Homo sapiens: one gene and its partners. The protein of the gene in region 1 purifies or fractionates together with the protein of each later gene. This does not show direct contact. Each region holds a gene or a part of one and is shown on either strand. Other genes may lie near its edges.

Evidence for each region. Proteins that work in one complex are often made in the same cells at the same time.
Region 2: the proteins of SLC41A1 (region 1) and PGAM1 purify together in Homo sapiens (affinity purification with mass spectrometry; one large-scale study listed by BioGRID and IntAct). This does not show direct contact.
Region 3: the proteins of SLC41A1 (region 1) and ACO2 purify together in Homo sapiens (affinity purification with mass spectrometry; one large-scale study listed by BioGRID and IntAct). This does not show direct contact.
Region 4: the proteins of SLC41A1 (region 1) and SNX19 purify together in Homo sapiens (affinity purification with mass spectrometry; one large-scale study listed by BioGRID and IntAct). This does not show direct contact.

What each region holds. Positions count from the first base shown.
Region 1 is NC_000001.11:205,795,683-205,800,632, forward strand, and holds part of SLC41A1 (solute carrier family 41 member 1), read right to left. Parts: intron 4,149-4,950; coding exon 4,077-4,148; intron 3,420-4,076; coding exon 3,275-3,419; intron 3,134-3,274; coding exon 2,987-3,133; intron 2,370-2,986; coding exon 2,222-2,369; intron 1,322-2,221; coding exon 1,242-1,321; intron 1-1,241. UniProt on the Homo sapiens protein: Na(+)/Mg(2+) ion exchanger that acts as a predominant Mg(2+) efflux system at the plasma membrane.
Region 2 is NC_000010.11:97,431,476-97,433,944, reverse strand, and holds the end of PGAM1 (phosphoglycerate mutase 1), read right to left. Parts: intron 1,591-2,469; coding exon 1,421-1,590; 3' UTR 501-1,420; downstream 1-500. UniProt on the Homo sapiens protein: Catalyzes the interconversion of 2-phosphoglycerate and 3-phosphoglyceratea crucial step in glycolysis, by using 2,3-bisphosphoglycerate. Also catalyzes the interconversion of (2R)-2,3-bisphosphoglycerate and (2R)-3-phospho-glyceroyl phosphate.
Region 3 is NC_000022.11:41,510,525-41,514,116, reverse strand, and holds part of ACO2 (aconitate hydratase, mitochondrial precursor), read right to left. Parts: intron 2,242-3,592; coding exon 2,149-2,241; intron 1-2,148. UniProt on the Homo sapiens protein: Catalyzes the isomerization of citrate to isocitrate via cis-aconitate.
Region 4 is NC_000011.10:130,913,680-130,917,974, forward strand, and holds the start of SNX19 (sorting nexin-19), read right to left. Parts: upstream 2,801-4,295; 5' UTR 2,261-2,800; coding exon 587-2,260; intron 1-586. UniProt on the Homo sapiens protein: Plays a role in intracellular vesicle trafficking and exocytosis. May play a role in maintaining insulin-containing dense core vesicles in pancreatic beta-cells and in preventing their degradation. May play a role in insulin secretion.

The DNA.
Region 1 (4,950 bases):
CATCTTCCAGCCTCCCCCATCCTCCCCTCTATGGAGATGCAGCAGTTCCATGTTCCCCTGGCAAAGCTGTGACAGTGCCGGAAAGGATACGTGCAGATCTGCAGACTCAGAGAGCCTGACTTCTCCACCAGTAGAGCATGGGCACCTGCCTTCCTACACAGCTGAGGGGATGAAGCCCTGCCTTGCCTCACCGCCTCACCTCCTCTCCAATGCTCTGAGCAGACCCAGGCATCCTATGGTCATATGCTGATTCTGGTAACCAGTTTCAAGGATCAGGTTTGAGCTCCAAACTCTGGAATCTGGTATCTCCGCCAGGACCTGTGCTGATTTCTCTGTTGCCCTCACATCCCAACCTGCTCCCTGCTCTTCTCAGCCTTGCTCTGAGCTCTGGGGGACTGGTCTCCACAGACTGCATTACCCAGTCTCCCTTGCTGGCTGCTTCCACTGTTTGTTCAGTGGGAGGCAACAGCAGGCAACCAGAGGGCAGGTGGAGAGAGAGATCAGGTATTTCTTTCCCAATCCCTCCCTGCTTTTCAGCATTGGCTTCCCCATGTTGGGGGCAAAGACAGAGCTTTCACTGGACTCCTATAATGCTATTCCCTCGTTACTATGGTTTGAATATAGTTTGTCCCCAACAAAACTCATGTTGTGGCTTGGTCCCCAAATGTGGTGGTGGGAGGTGGTGCCTTTAAGAGTGAATAGGTTATTAAGATGGATTAATGTCTTTCTTGGGAAAGGTATAGTTCCCATGAGAGTGGGTTGTCATAAAGCGAGGTTTGCCTCTCTTGTTTTGCCCATTTTGCACATGCCCAGTTTTCCTTCTGTTTCTCCATTTGGATGTTTGGATGCAGCATGAGGCCCTCACTAGAAGCAGCTGCTCAATCTTGAACTTCCCAGCTTCCAGAACTGTGAGCTAAATAAACTTCTTTTCGTTATAAATTAGCCAGTTTCAAGTATTCTGTTCTAGCAACAGATAATGGACTATGATACTCCCCTTGACCCTTTAGGAGTAGAGGCTTCCCATTGCTGCTAATCTCTCGGTGCCTCAACATCCCTTATCTGTCCTTTTACTCTGCTCCCACCTCTGTAAGCAGTCCCTTCATTAAGGTCTTGAACCATCTGAGCTAGATTCTCGTCTGCTGGAACCCTGACTGATACAGAAACCAACCCCTTAAGTCCTCTTCTCCTGTCCCTTTCCTTCCCCCAGCCCTGCCCTCTGATAGCTGATGCCCAGACCTCACCATTAATCACAGGCGTGAAGACAGCCATCCCAGCAAAGTTGGGGTCTGAGACAGTCTTGTCCAAGATGAGGCCTCCCACACTATAGAGACATAAAGACAAAATGACGCAAAGACCACTGAAGGGTTCTGCCTTAGTCTCTGGGATGAGAGGTCCAGGCCCACCTATCCTTGGAGATGAAGGGAAGCACCATGGCTCTCAGGAGTTCCTCACCATCCAGTCCTTGCCTCCCTTGACAGGATTAGGTGCTGCTCATAACATTCTGACTGGGCACAGTGACTCCAGAACAAGCTGGTGGTACTGGGTCAGGCAACCACCTCCTGTACCTGCCCTCTAAGTTGGCCGGAGGAGCAGCCTGCAGGACTATCTGCCTCTGAGGACCTCTGTTGTTCTGCCCACTCAGCATTTACTTCCCTTTCTGGTGATAGCACTGGGCTCCTCCACAGGGAACCACCTCTCTCAAGCTCAGTGACTGTGGCTCAGGTGACAATGCCTCAATGATAGCTAGGCTCCAGGTCCATCCAATCAGAGGATTGCAGCCCCAAGGCCACGCTGACTGGTTTGGAGATAATCATGTCACCAGATGAGAAGCAGTGGAACTCTATTCTGGGACTTTGTGGAACTGTTGGGGGAAGAATCTCTCTTCCCACTGGAATTTGTAGGAGTAAGAAAAGCATAAACCTGGGCTGTAGGCCATGACAGAGAAGAGCAGAGCTAAGAGTCACAGAGTACTGGGGCCCTGATCTTAGGTATGTCGCTGAATTCAGCTGTGCCTTTTTGGTTCTCCAGGCCAATACATTCTGCCTTGGAATGAAACCCAGTTCAGATGGTTTCTGTCATTTTCAACAGAAGGACATGTGACTGAAACACTAATGAACACATTTCTAGGGTCTGACCCCCACCCCATCTCTCCAGGGTTTAAAAAGAAGTCTGTGGAAGGGTTGGAGTGGGGTAGGAGTGGATACTCAGGGCCCCAGCCTACCTGCTGATGGCCATGGCAATGATAACAGGCTCCCAGCCCGAGTACAACACCTCCCTTGTGGCTGGACTTCGTCGGGCCAGCACCACCCAGACAGGCAGCAGGGCCACAAAGAAAGCACACACCAGTGGGTAGATGTATCGCCAGTGATCTGAGAGGGCAGAGGTCAGAAGGAGATAAGCACTGTGTTTCCCTACCCTAAGTTTCTCCCTGGCTCAGCCTGAAAATGTCCCAACAGATCAATAGCAAGACTACACTAAATGCCAGTAAACACATTATCCCATTTGATCTTCACTGGCAGCTCAGGAGGTAGGTGGGACAAGCCTTTTCCATTTTATGGATGAGGAAACCAAGGGAGAGAGCTAGCCAGGCACTGAGCCAATTAGGGACAGAGACCAGAGGACAGAGACTCTAGGTCTCTTGATTGGAGCCCAGAAAACACCATCTCCCACCCGCTTCTTCATTTTGCAAGCAGATCTAAGCCTCTGGTTCCTTTCCTTTACCCTTTCCACCTCATCCCTCCAAGAGAAGTAAGAATCTGCAGGACCACACAGGAATATACTTCTGATACTTTTCCCCTGCCCCTGATGCCTGCTTGAATTTGAGATCAGTACTTAGCTTCAAATCTCTAAGATCAGGAATTATTACAACCTGTGTTCAAACCAAATAGTTTAAGAACACAGAAGAAACTCTTGCACATTTGCAAACTACTACCATCTCTCCCAACCCCACCCAGGACTCCAAGAAGCCACACTCTTGGTGGCTCACTCAGTTCCAGGTAGAGTCCCCAGCTGATGCCTGAGAGCAGCGCCAAGGTGATGAGGTCGCCCAGGCTGGCAGCAATGGGTGTGGCCACGTTGTCTGGGTTGATCCCAATCTTGCGAGAGCCAATGATGACTCCAATCATGATCATACCTGGTGAGCAAGTGGGAGGAGGGGCAGGCAGGGTGAGAAGAGATAAAGGAGTCTCAACAAACAAAAAGAGAGAGTGGAAGTGCCAGGTGCAGTGTTCTCTGGGGCGGCACTCCTTACTCCTCTATGCCCTCCCTTTCTTACCCAGTACCAGGGAGGCAATGAAGGCTGTGGCCACGCTGCTAGCACAGAGCAGGAAGGCGTGCGGAATACTGAAGTGGCCATCAGGGATCCAGCCAAAGACGACGGCTGCGATGGACGCCAGGAAGCCCACCACCGTGGCCTGCACCTGGGGACAGGAGTGGTAACTCAGAAAGCCCTGAGAGCAGTGGGCTTCCTAAGCTGAGGTCATAAGCATCTGGGCAGACCTCTTCCTGGCTGGCAGTAGCCCCAGGAGGCAGGCTGGACTGCATGGTCCAGTCCTCCCAGGCTGGAAGGATGTCTTTATTTATTTAGGTTCACACCAGCCACTAGTACTGGGCAGTGCACTCTGCAGGAGCCCAGAACATGTTACTGGCTGAATGAGTGTGCCTCTGGGGATGGGAGTGAGGTTCAACAGAGCCGGAGACTTCCACCCAGAGTCAAGGCCTGGGCCTCAAGGGGGAAGGCTCCCAGTCTGAACCTGTGTGGTCTCATGGGGAGATGGGACAGCAGTGGCACAGGACATCTCAGCACTCCTGAGTCTGCTCATATTGCCAGGATCTGCTGGGACTCAAAGGCACGTGCACCACCAAGAACTGAGAACCAGAATGGGTGATGCTGGGCCCTCCTCATCTTGGGCGTTTTCCTGGGTAACCTAGTTACCTCCTAGAGCTACTCTGGGGGAAGCCAGCTCAGTGGGATACTGGAGATTCACTCAGGAGCCTGCTGGGGCTGACCTAAGCCTTTCAGAGATTCCTGACTAAGGGGAAGCTTAGCCCACCCTCTCTGGTCCCTGCCTTCTTACCTGGATGAGGGCCATGTTCCCAGTGATCATCCGCCAGAGCTCCTTGGGTGTGTCCATGTGTCCAATGTTGGCCTGGGAAAGGGAGGGCAAGGGGCTGGAGCTTCAGGCTGGAAAAGGCCTGAAGCTCCATCCATTAGGCTCCTGCCTAGATCATGAGGCAGTACATGTGGCCTAAGACTCTGAGAGCAGGACCTGACAGTCCCGGAAAGGTGAAGCAGGATCAGGGAAACTGAGGTGAAAGGGAAGGAGCTAAAGCTGGGCTCCTGCAGCTGGGTGGGGGGTTGGAAGGGGGTCCCCTAGGCAGTCGCCTCTCTTCCTCTCAGGACACCAGCTGAGCAGAGGCAAATTCTATCCTTTGCCCTGCTTATCTGGGCAGCCCATTCCTGCATGGGTCAGAACAACCCAGTCCCTGACTCTGAAGCCAGCCTGCGATCCCAGGGAAGGAAAGGTCAGCTGCTGGTGCAGGACTGAGGCTCCAAGAGTATTTGGGAAGGAGTGGGTGGCATGGGCCAGAAGTCGGGTATGGCAAGTCAGGGTGGGTTAACTTGGATGCCACTTCTGTCTGTCACCTTCTCTAGACTCTTGACCCTGCAGGGAGATCCCTGGCCTCCTGAGTTTTATCATCTCCCACCTCCAGCCCAGGGCCCTGTATCTGTTCAGGCCCGGAATCGTCACGGCTCACAACTGTGGGAGGTAGGAATGACGAGCAGCTCCTCTCTGTCTGTTTCCTTAAAGAAGAGCAAGCTGCCATGGGTAAAGGGAATGGGATGGCCGGGGGGCTGGGGGTGCTGGGAGGGCCTGGCTCTGCTCCCGCCCAGCTGCAAAGCAGGGGCTGGAGATCAGAGGAGGCCCCCATCTGTGCGGGTGGAGGAAC
Region 2 (2,469 bases), on another chromosome or scaffold:
CCCCGTCTCTACTAAAAATACAGAAATTAAGCAAGCATGGTGGCACATGCCTGTGGTCCCAGCTACTCAGGAGGCTGAGGTGGGAGGCTTGCTTGAACACAGGAGGGGGAGGCTGCAGTGAGCTGAGATCATGCCACTGCACTCAAGCATGGGCGACGGAGCGAGGCTGTCTCAAAAAGAAAAAACAAAAAGCAGACTTTACTTACTCTAAAGAGGATATAATGGAGTTCAGAATGTGACTTTCCAATCAGGGGAGCACCAAGCAAGAGCTGCAGGGGGCAACGTGAATGGAGGGCTTGGCCAGGAGGGCCTCCCACCACCACCTCAGCTCACCAGGCTGACGTGAAAACCCCAAGGAGATGCGTCATTTTTTGACCAACCGTGTAAAGTTGTGACTGGATGTCCTAAAACAAACTGCCACACAAGGACTAGGGCAGTGAGAGACATTTCAAGTTAAATGCTAAAGTTTCCTCAGATAAGGTCTTCCACATCACACAAGAAGCTATTGCACATCACTCCTTTATTATACTGATATGGAAAAAGGATTTAGTACAGTTATGCTCAGATGAACACTGGACCCATGTGGCAGGGTCAAGCAACTAGAACATGATTCAGAAATCAGTGAAAGATACACTTGGACAGGACCAAGAGGCATTTCACTGCCATGAAACAAGGCAGGAAGGGATTCTAATACACACACCAGGAAGCACTCCTGCCCCTCAGAGGTCAAGGAGCTGATCCTATATTGGTATGAGGAATGGCTTATTTTCTGATGACCACATGTGGGACTATTTCAACCGCCACAAGAAACCCCAGAAGGGTTATTGTTTTGTATTATATATACTATACTTTTTTAATAAAAGTAAATTAACACATAACGAAATTCAGGATTGATCCCAACCTAGAGCCAGATCCTCTGGGGTCAGGGAGGAAACAGTTGTCACATCACCACGCAGGTTACATTCGTCTTCCACTGGAATGACTAGAGCCCCCAGGCAGTAGGCAGTGACCTGACTGCAGAAGAGCAGAGGACAGACTCCGCTCATGGGGACAGACAGGCTCTGTTGCTTCTCCTCACTGGTCATGGCTTAGCATGGTTCCTCCCCAAAGTCCTTAGTAAACAAAGCACTCGCAAAAACCCAAGTCACTACTTTTAAACTCTGTTGGATAAGGGGAGCTTTTCCATAGCTTAGACTGAGAACCTGTGCTCTAGAACTGCTATTCTGACTAGATTGTATGAAGGGAGTGGGTGCAGGCGACAAAATGGCTAAAATGAAAATGGGAGCCACTGGTCCCCGTCTGCAGCTACAACTCAAGATGTCTACAGATGTGGTCAGTGTGACATGTGCAGGTGGGAGGGGCAGAGGGACAAGACGGGCAGGGAGGGTGCTCCTGGGGACAGTATCCTCCCCGCCGGCCTTCACTTCTTGGCCTTGCCCTGGGCAGCCACAGCTTCCATGGCTTTGCGCACCGTCTCTTCATCCCCCAGAAACTGCATGGGCTTGATAGGCTTCAAGTTCTTGTCCAATTCATAGACAATGGGAATACCAGTCGGCAGGTTCAGCTCCATGATAGCCTCTTCAGAGAGACCTGAAAACATCCACCATCATCAGCCACACAAGACATAAATCCACATCACCCCTCCAGGTTTACTTTGTCCTCCAGGTGATAAAGGACTTTGACAGAAATTAAAATAAGACACCCTTTCTGATCTTTATAGTAGTTCTGAACCCAGGGAATGGCCCCCACCATACTTATTTCTCAGCCATTAAACTGAAAAGCAAGAAAAGGTATACAAGATAGACCACCAACAAACTACAGCAAGGTATATGGCCAGATATCTCTACCAAAGTGGGATCTAGAAGCCCACAGTGAAGCAAGACTACACATCTCAAATACCCTGTACAGCCCATCCAACCAAAAATCAGCACACGTGGGCCTCTAGGCCCTCGGGGATGAAGATGCAAATTGAGATTCATGTGTAAAGTTGTGCCTGGTTGTGACTAAGGAGAATTTTTTCTTTTATATATATTTGTTTTCCTTTTTTTTTTTTTTAAGAGACAAGGTCTTACTCTCTCACCCAGGCTAGAATGTAGTGGCACAATCATACCTCACTATAACCTCAAACTGCTGGGCTCAAGCGATCTCCCGCCTCAGCCTCCTGAGTAGCTGGGACTACAGATGAGCATCACCACATCAAGCTAATTTTTCATTTTTCTTTTGTACAGACAAGGTCTTGCTTTGTTGCTCAGGCTGGTTTTGAACTCCTGGCCTCCCAAGGTGCTGATAGTACAGGCATGAACCACTGTGCTTGGCCTTTTAAAATTTTGTAGAGATGCAGTCTTACTATGTTGCCCAGGCTGTCTCAAACTCCTGGCCTCAAGTGGTCCTCCTGCCTTGGCCTCCCAAAATGTTGCAATTACAGGCATGAGCCACTGTGCTTGGCAAGCTAAGGAGGATTTTCACTAG
Region 3 (3,592 bases), on another chromosome or scaffold:
TGGGGATGCAGAGGGAAGACCTGGCTGCGAAGAACTGGCCAATGCTGCCACGTACAAGGATTTAAGACTAGTGCATCCCTAAAGAGCCTCAAGCTTGTAAAAGTTGGATCCACGAAGGCTGGGCACACAGAATTCGGGGTGGTCTACACGGTGTAGACACTTGTGGTCCACACGGTGTAGACACTTGTGGTCCACATCCAGGGGGAGAGGTCAGGCAGACATGAGGACTGCAGAAGATGTCACGATGACGCTGGCCGTGACAGTGAGCTCCCCGGTCTGTGGGTGTGGCTGGACAGATGGGGGTGAGGGCTGGGAAGAAGGACTAATGCCTAGAACTACACCTGGAAATTCAGCCATCCATCCACACAACACACACATACATTAAGGACCTGCTCTGTACTGACCTGGTCCCAAACCCAGAGCTAGAGAGGAATAAATAAGCCACAGTCCCTGTCCCCACAGAGCACATGATCCAGTGCAGAAAGCACTTGGCAGATGCTGGAACATAATGTGAAGAGATCCCACAGAGGATCCACTGGAAGCCACTGTGCCAGGCACGGGGAGGGCCGGGGAGGCTCCACAGAGGAACCAGAAAGCTGTGATGTGGAGGAAGGTCTGCGGGCCAAGTGGGGCCAGGGCACTTCCCAGAGGGAAAGGGGTTCAGGTTTGGGTTGGACCTAATGGACTGAGGCTGCTGAAGACGTGACATCAAGGCGGGAAGAAAGTAAAGCTGCAAAGTACTCCCATGGCCCCTGGGCATTTTCTTTTTAAAGAAACAAACACACGAGCTGCTGTATGCTTAGCAGCTAGCCGGTGGCAGATGTGAGCTGCCATCACTCACGGCTCCAAACTTTGGCCCAGGAGCTGCCATAAAGGCCTGGGCATTTGTACTGAGGTAGAAAGGGAGACACCTGCATTGCAGTGCCCTTTGTAACAGAAGGCCAAGACTGGGTCCACCTGACTCCCTAACCCTGCTGCAGAGAGGGGCTTTCTAGTCCCCACAGGCCGCTGCAAACGGCCATTCCACGCAGCCCCTTCCTGGCAAGAGTGATGGTTGGGCAGGGCAGAGGAGTGATCCCCTGCTGGCTCTGGTTTCAGAGCGGGGCGGTGCTGGGAGCCCATGCGGCGTCAGATTACAGCCTGACTCAGCACATCCTGAGGAGGCCAGGACAGTGAGGTCTGGGATGGAGGTGGGGGGAAGGGCCACCTTGCAAAGGTGCGAAGAGGCAGGTTTCATACATACAGGGTGGATGTAAATGGACACAAACTAGGTCAGTGGTCCCTAACAGTGCCCTTGGAAGAAAGGGAAGCACCCACCTCCCCAGGATATACACGTTCACACTTGCACTTCCAGAGACAAAACTGTCCAACTGTCCACCAAAAGAAGATCCATCCTTGGGACACCTCAGAGGAGCCCCCGGCTGACATGGCCACATGACCTATGGTACCTTCACCCTACAGAACACCATGAAGGAGCCAAAAAGAAATCCGAGGAGCGCCACGTGCAGAAGCAGAAAGAGCTCTGGGGGCGAGGGAGGCGGCAGAGCAGCACGGTGGCATGGGGCACTCGCTCCAGACCAGCCCTCCTGCCCACAGGCCTGGCTCCACAGTAAGCCAGCTAGGTGTCCCTGGGCAAGAAGGTTAACATCTCTGTGCCTCAGCTGCCTCCTCTGTAGGGTGTGGATAGTAAAAGCACCTACCTCACAGGGCATGGCAAATATCTTTCAAGTGCTCAGCCTAGTACCTGAGACACAGTATGGGCTCATCAAATGTCAGTGATGCATGCCACAAGGGGTGACACTTGTGAAAAAAAACAAAATAATACCATGTTCTGTATGAGAGTTTATGGGAATAGAGATGCTTGAGTACACACCCAGAAGACAATGTGGAAAGAAACATGTCGCACTTAAAATGCTGGTTACCTGGGTGGTTAGGAGGTATTATTTTAACTTCTCACCCAGAAAATGAGCACGTATAATGACATAATGAAAATCAGTTTCAAAACAAAGGAGGAAGAGCATAAGAGCTGATGGATATGTCATCCAGTTCCCCTCAGCCCCCCTGGGCCTCAAACCCCCTCCCCCCATAGGCCTGGAACATACTTCTCTGGCTTGGGCCCTTGGGACGGCAGACTGAGCCCAGCTTTACCTGGTGAATGATTCCAGATCCAGGCTTCCAGAAGCCCACGCCATATTTGGCACCTGCAGTTGCCAGGAAATTATAAACTTCCTGGTTGATGTCCTATTGAGACAAATCAATAATTGGGCGTTAGCAACATGGTTTGTGTCCAGGTGACCCTCACCAAGCCCTCCCCACCCCATCAGCCTCCCTTCTGACTCTGAAATACTGGCACTGGAGACAGGCCCTCTCTTAGAGACCTTCTAAAAATAATTCCAAAGAGCTTGGATGTTGGCCCAGTCTCCACTAGCAGTGTCAGAGAGAAGGACAGGGGAGCAGAGATGGAGCCCCAGTTCTGTGACACCTGGCCAGGGTGGTGGGTCTGGAACAAGTCCCTGCCCTGGTCTGGGTCTCAGTTTCCTTATCTGGAGAAGGGACTGGTCTAAATAATTGCCAAGAGTGCCTGTGGCACTCAAGTCCCCAGATGAGGCCAGCAGTGCAGAGGCAGGCCCTGGCCTAGGCGCAGTGGCTGGGTGCAGTGGCTCACGCCTGTAATCCCAACACTTTGGGAGGCTGAGGCAGGCAGATCACTTGAGGTCAGGAGTTCAAGACCAGCCTGGCCAACATGGCGAAACCCTGTCTCTACTAAAAATACAAAAATTAGCCAGGCATGGTAGTGCACACCTGTAATTCCAGTTACTCGGGAGGCTGAGGCACAAGAATTGGTTGAACCTGGGAGACAAGGATGCAATGAGCCGAGATCGTGCCACTGCACTCCAGCCTACAAGACAGAGCGAGACTGTCTCAAAAAATAAAAATAAGAATAAAATAAATAAAAATTAGCTGTGCACCTGCGGTCCCAGCTACTTGCAGGCCGAGGCAGGAAGATCACTTGAGCCCAGGAGTTCAAGGCTGCAATGAGCCGAGATCGCACCACTACACTCCAGCCTGAGTGACAGGGCAAGACCCTGCCTCAAAACAAAACAAAAACCCCAGAGGCTTTTTTTGAAATAACTTGCTGGAGATCCCAGGCTTAGACGACACCTGAGAGAGCCCCCTGGACTGGTGTCTGACTGTCGGAAGTGCTGAATTCTTGGTAATGTGTTTGATGGGCCCAAATGGAAGGCTGTCGAAGGGACCACTGTTCTGAAAAGGAGGTTTCAGCCAAACGAAATGATGACACGGGCTGTAGCCATCCTGCCTATAATCTGAAGGAAGCTTCCTTGAGGGACAGGGAAGGGCCCACTGCACAGCAGATGTGAGGCCAGGGTTTATCTGGAAGACATGGGAGGTCCCTGTGTGGGGTCAGTGAGACTGACCCCAGTAACAAAACGGTGGGATTCTAGTGGACTCTACTGAGTCTCAAAGGAGGAACTAGGAAATGGGACCTGCCAGCCTCCGGCATGGGAGAGCGATGCTTCAGAGAAGGGACCTCAGCCAGTGCCCTCGGACCCTTGATGAGATACACTCAAAC
Region 4 (4,295 bases), on another chromosome or scaffold:
TACTGGTACATTTTGTACTTTGTTTTAGGAAGGTAGGTTATTTACCTATGTCTATCTCAGAAGATAGCAAGTTTTTGACTCTTGGAGGTGTGTAAGCAGACTTGGGAACAACTTGACAAGAGATAACATGAAGAGGGTTGGTTGGATTAGAGAGGCAATTCCCCAAGATGGCCTTAGGACAGGCTGACTCTATGTTATCTGGAGAGTTCTATTTGAAAATAAATAAAATACAGAATCCAGGGACCCCCTCCTTAGAAATTCTCATACAGAATCCAACAGAGTCTGTCAGAATCTGTATATCTGAAAGGCAGCTCAAGTGATTTTGAGGTGCAGCCAAGTTTGGGAACCACTGAAAATATAACCCTCAGCATTCTAGCAGCCCTGAGGTTCCAGGATTGCTTGTGTGAGTACAGGATAAACGCTACTCTGCCTTACATATTAGCTTCAGACCATTCACAGAGATAGATGCCTATTGAAAGAACCACTTCAAACTAACAGCATCTCTCCCCCAAGAACATTTGCTTCATGACTGCTTTCCAAACCCACTCCTAGCCCGGGTGAGCACCCACAGCTTTAATCCTGTTACCTTCACAGTATAGAGTGTGTATGGGTGGAATCCAGTGCCACTGTGCTCTCGGGCTGTAATGGTGCCAGTGATACGAAGGTTCTGGATGATAACTGGACCATCGGGACTGCTTAGGGGCTCAAAGCTGAAGGTGGCTGAGCTGAGAGGACCAGGTGGAGAGGAGGAAAGCAGAACTGGTGGCAGAGTAGGATCAAGGGAGCTCACATCATTGGTGAGATCCTTCTCTAAGCATGACGGCCGTGAGGGGCAGGTCTTTTCTGGCCCCTCCAGCAAAGCTGTAACAGAGGCGGTAACATCTCCTTGTTCTATCTCCTTGTCTGCTGTGTCAATATGGATCTCTGGGCAGGAATTCAGTGTGGAGACCGGCAGGCCTGTCTCTGTTTCTGTCCCTGGACCCTCCTCAGCCTCTGCTCCTTCAGATGCCTCACCATCTTTGGGTTCCAGAGCCTGGGAACTCTCTAGGGCACACAGGGCATCCTGAATCCTGTCAGAGAGAAAGCTGCCTGGAGTCATGAGCATGATGGTTTCTTTGCCCAGTTCAGACAGCGGAGACTCCAGCTCTGAGTCTTCACATAAGAACAGGGGACCTCGAACATTTGGCTGTAGGAAATGAGATGAGTTGTTTCCTACTTTTCTTTCTTCACACATCCCACCCAAATCTCCCTCTACAGCTTCGTGGCCTTCTTCAACCTCTGGAGAGGGGCCTGCAGAACCCTCTGGCTCACTGTAACTTAGGAATACTGGGGCTGCTACTGGAGAAGCTCTCCCTTCTGGAAGCTGCTCTACCTCAGCAATCAGTGGCAGAGATGTCGGCACTGAGGGCTGTTCGGGGGCACTGGCTGGGCAGGGTGCTGGATCTCTGGCCTTGGAAAAGATACCCACGAGTACAAGGTGGATCCAGTCAGGATCTGACAGCCTGCTGATCAGTGGTAAGATTACATTGCATGTGATGAGTTCGACCACTACATGGCGTCCGGTACGAGTCTCCAAGTGGGGCTTGGGCACCAGCCCTTGAAGCAACAAATTCACAACGCCACGCGTATAGGTGACTTCAGCACTGGGGCTGTGCACAGCAGGATGTGGGGCAGTCGCCCGGCAGTAAGCCTCCCAGAGGTGGGAAGGCTCAACTGGACCATTCTTCCCTGCAGTGGCCTCCTTTGCCTGAATGTAGCTCTGCAGGTGACAACCGCAGAGAGTCAGAACACTCTGGGCAACAGCATGACTGTCCATCACGCTCATCCTTCTCCGAAGCTCCTGGACCAACCCTTTCATGGCTGCCTCCATTTCTTCCTCAAAGGCTGGCTCCTGGCTCACGGAACGGTACCAAGATAACACAAAATCTCGAATAATCATCTGGATGGTGCGGTTGATCTCCCGTTCCAGCTGCCTTTCTGCCTCAGGGCATGGAGGACAGGTGGCCAACGGGATGAAGCGTTCCAGATGCAGTCGACCTGAAGCCACTCCAGCGAGGCTGGAGCCCAGCCATCCTCCCAGCACCACTAGCAATGCCGACAGAAGGCACAGCAGCCACACGTTGACCAGAAGGTGTATGACCAGGAGCCAGCCAAGCAAGACCCCCACAGCCATCAGCTTCCGGCTACTCAACAGGTTATTGAGGTGACAGCTCGATCCAGCTGGAGTTTCCTGGAACGGTGGCACTGTTTCTGTCTTCATGGCTGAACGGACAAGGTGGCTTCCCCAGATGACAGCCCTCAAGATTTTACTTCAGAGTTAGGGAAGGGGGGCATGAACTGTGTCTCAGATATGGGGCGATCTGGGTGCTGTTCAGGGAACCGGGGCTCCAGGCCCTCAAAGTCCTACAGGCACTGCAAAGCGACAGCTGCAGCTCCGCGTCTCCCCATGGCTACCACTAACAGAGCCCTCCAACTCGCCCCTTCCAGCTGAGGTGTGGCTTTGGAGGAAAACTCTGTGGCCTTCACACTGCCCCAGGCGGAAGGCCTCTTCGGGGCCTCGGGGCGGGCGCTGCAAGGCCCTGGGGCCCACGGACACTTACACACGCAGCGGGCAGCGGCCGGCGAAGACTGGGTCACACGCCGCCGGGAACCGCGCGCCCACACTCAGCCCCGACCTGAAGTGGACTCATCGCGGTCCTCTCCGGGAGCCTCGGCCCTCTGCCGCCGTAAACCTGGGCGACTGCGCTCCGCAGCCGGGCCTGTGTGAAGGCTGACCGCCGGCCGGCCGCCGGCGACAGCTTCCGGGTCGACGTCGACGGGAGCGAGGCATGCTGGGAGAGCGTCCGCGCGCGCCCCGAGGAGCGGCGCTGCCCGGCGCCCTCTGCTGGCGAGGAGCCGCCCTGACGGCCCTGCGCGAGGTAGTCTCTGAGCCTGAGCGTGAGCCTGAGCGCGCACGGGGCGCGTGCTCGCCAAGAGCTGGCGCAGATTTCCGAAGTGCCACGAAACAGCCGCCGCAGCAATCACCGCTAAGACCCAGACTTCCAGGCGCTTTAAAACGCGTCCTAGTTCTGGTTATTAAATGAAGCCTGTCCTTTACTGCTTAGGCACGCTGTCAATAATCCGGTTTATTTTAATTTCATGGAGGCGAAGTTTCATTGGCCTGATGTGTCTTAACATTTATCCGGTTTCCCCTAGAGCCGGTACCCCGCGTCCCCAGCACAAAGACCCTCATTTGTTGTCAGGAATTGCAGAATATAAGGCATGAAACGATACAGAGATAGATTTATGTTGTACATTTCATATACTGTATCACAAAATCAAATTTGTGATTGAGGGTTATTTGCTGGTGGCATTACACAAACAATCAAATATTTTGAGCATCTGCTGTCTTCAATGTGAGAGGCAGCGTGGACGAATAGAAGCAGACCTTGTCCTCCAGGACCTCCTGCTAACTGGGGATGCCAGCGCTTTGAACGCGATTGGCTATCTAGTAATGCCAGTCAGCGTGCGATATAGTAAAATACAAAATCTTATAGGAATTCAGGGGAAGGAGAGATCACTGTGGGTTGCAATGGTTAAGGAGAAGCTCACAGAAAAGGTGCCTTTCTGCTGAGTCTTCAAGGATGAGGGTTTCTATTTCCCTCTATCTCTTCTCGCCTTATCCTCCCCAAAAACATAGAAAAGGAAAGCAGAGATAGAGGTGTCCTTTCAGATAATCCTGTAATATATTTGCTTTGGAATATGCTCTATGTTGGATTGTTTTTGGTTTTAGCAAATTAGACTTCACTTGTCTACACAGGAACCTATAGGAAGACAAAATACCGGAAGCACTGACCAGGTGTCAAAAGTGTTAGTGTCAGTTTTGCGTGAAGCCAGCTTCCATGTCCACCTTGGGCCCTAGGAGCTGTGCCCGCAGGGTGGGTCTCCTTTCCATTTAGGCATAGGATTCGCATCGTTTGCACAGAGCTGCTCATGGTTGCCCTTCGTCCACCTTCTCTGTGCTGTGAGCAGTCTTTCATCATCATGGACTACTCCCTAGATGTTTAAAGGAATCTTCAAACAAATCCCAACCCAAAACTCTGCCAACAAGAAGTGCGTTGCAGCTTCCTGTCTCGTCCATTGCTGCTGTTGGGGCAGAGACTTCCTTTGAATACGAAAGAAGCCATCATTTAGATGTGACCCGTAGTTTACGATTCATCACTTCTAAAGCAAATGGTTTGATTTAGGATCAGTGTCCACTAAGCAGACTGGGCACTCCCGTGAGATGGCAGAATGTGAATCCACGGTTTCACGGT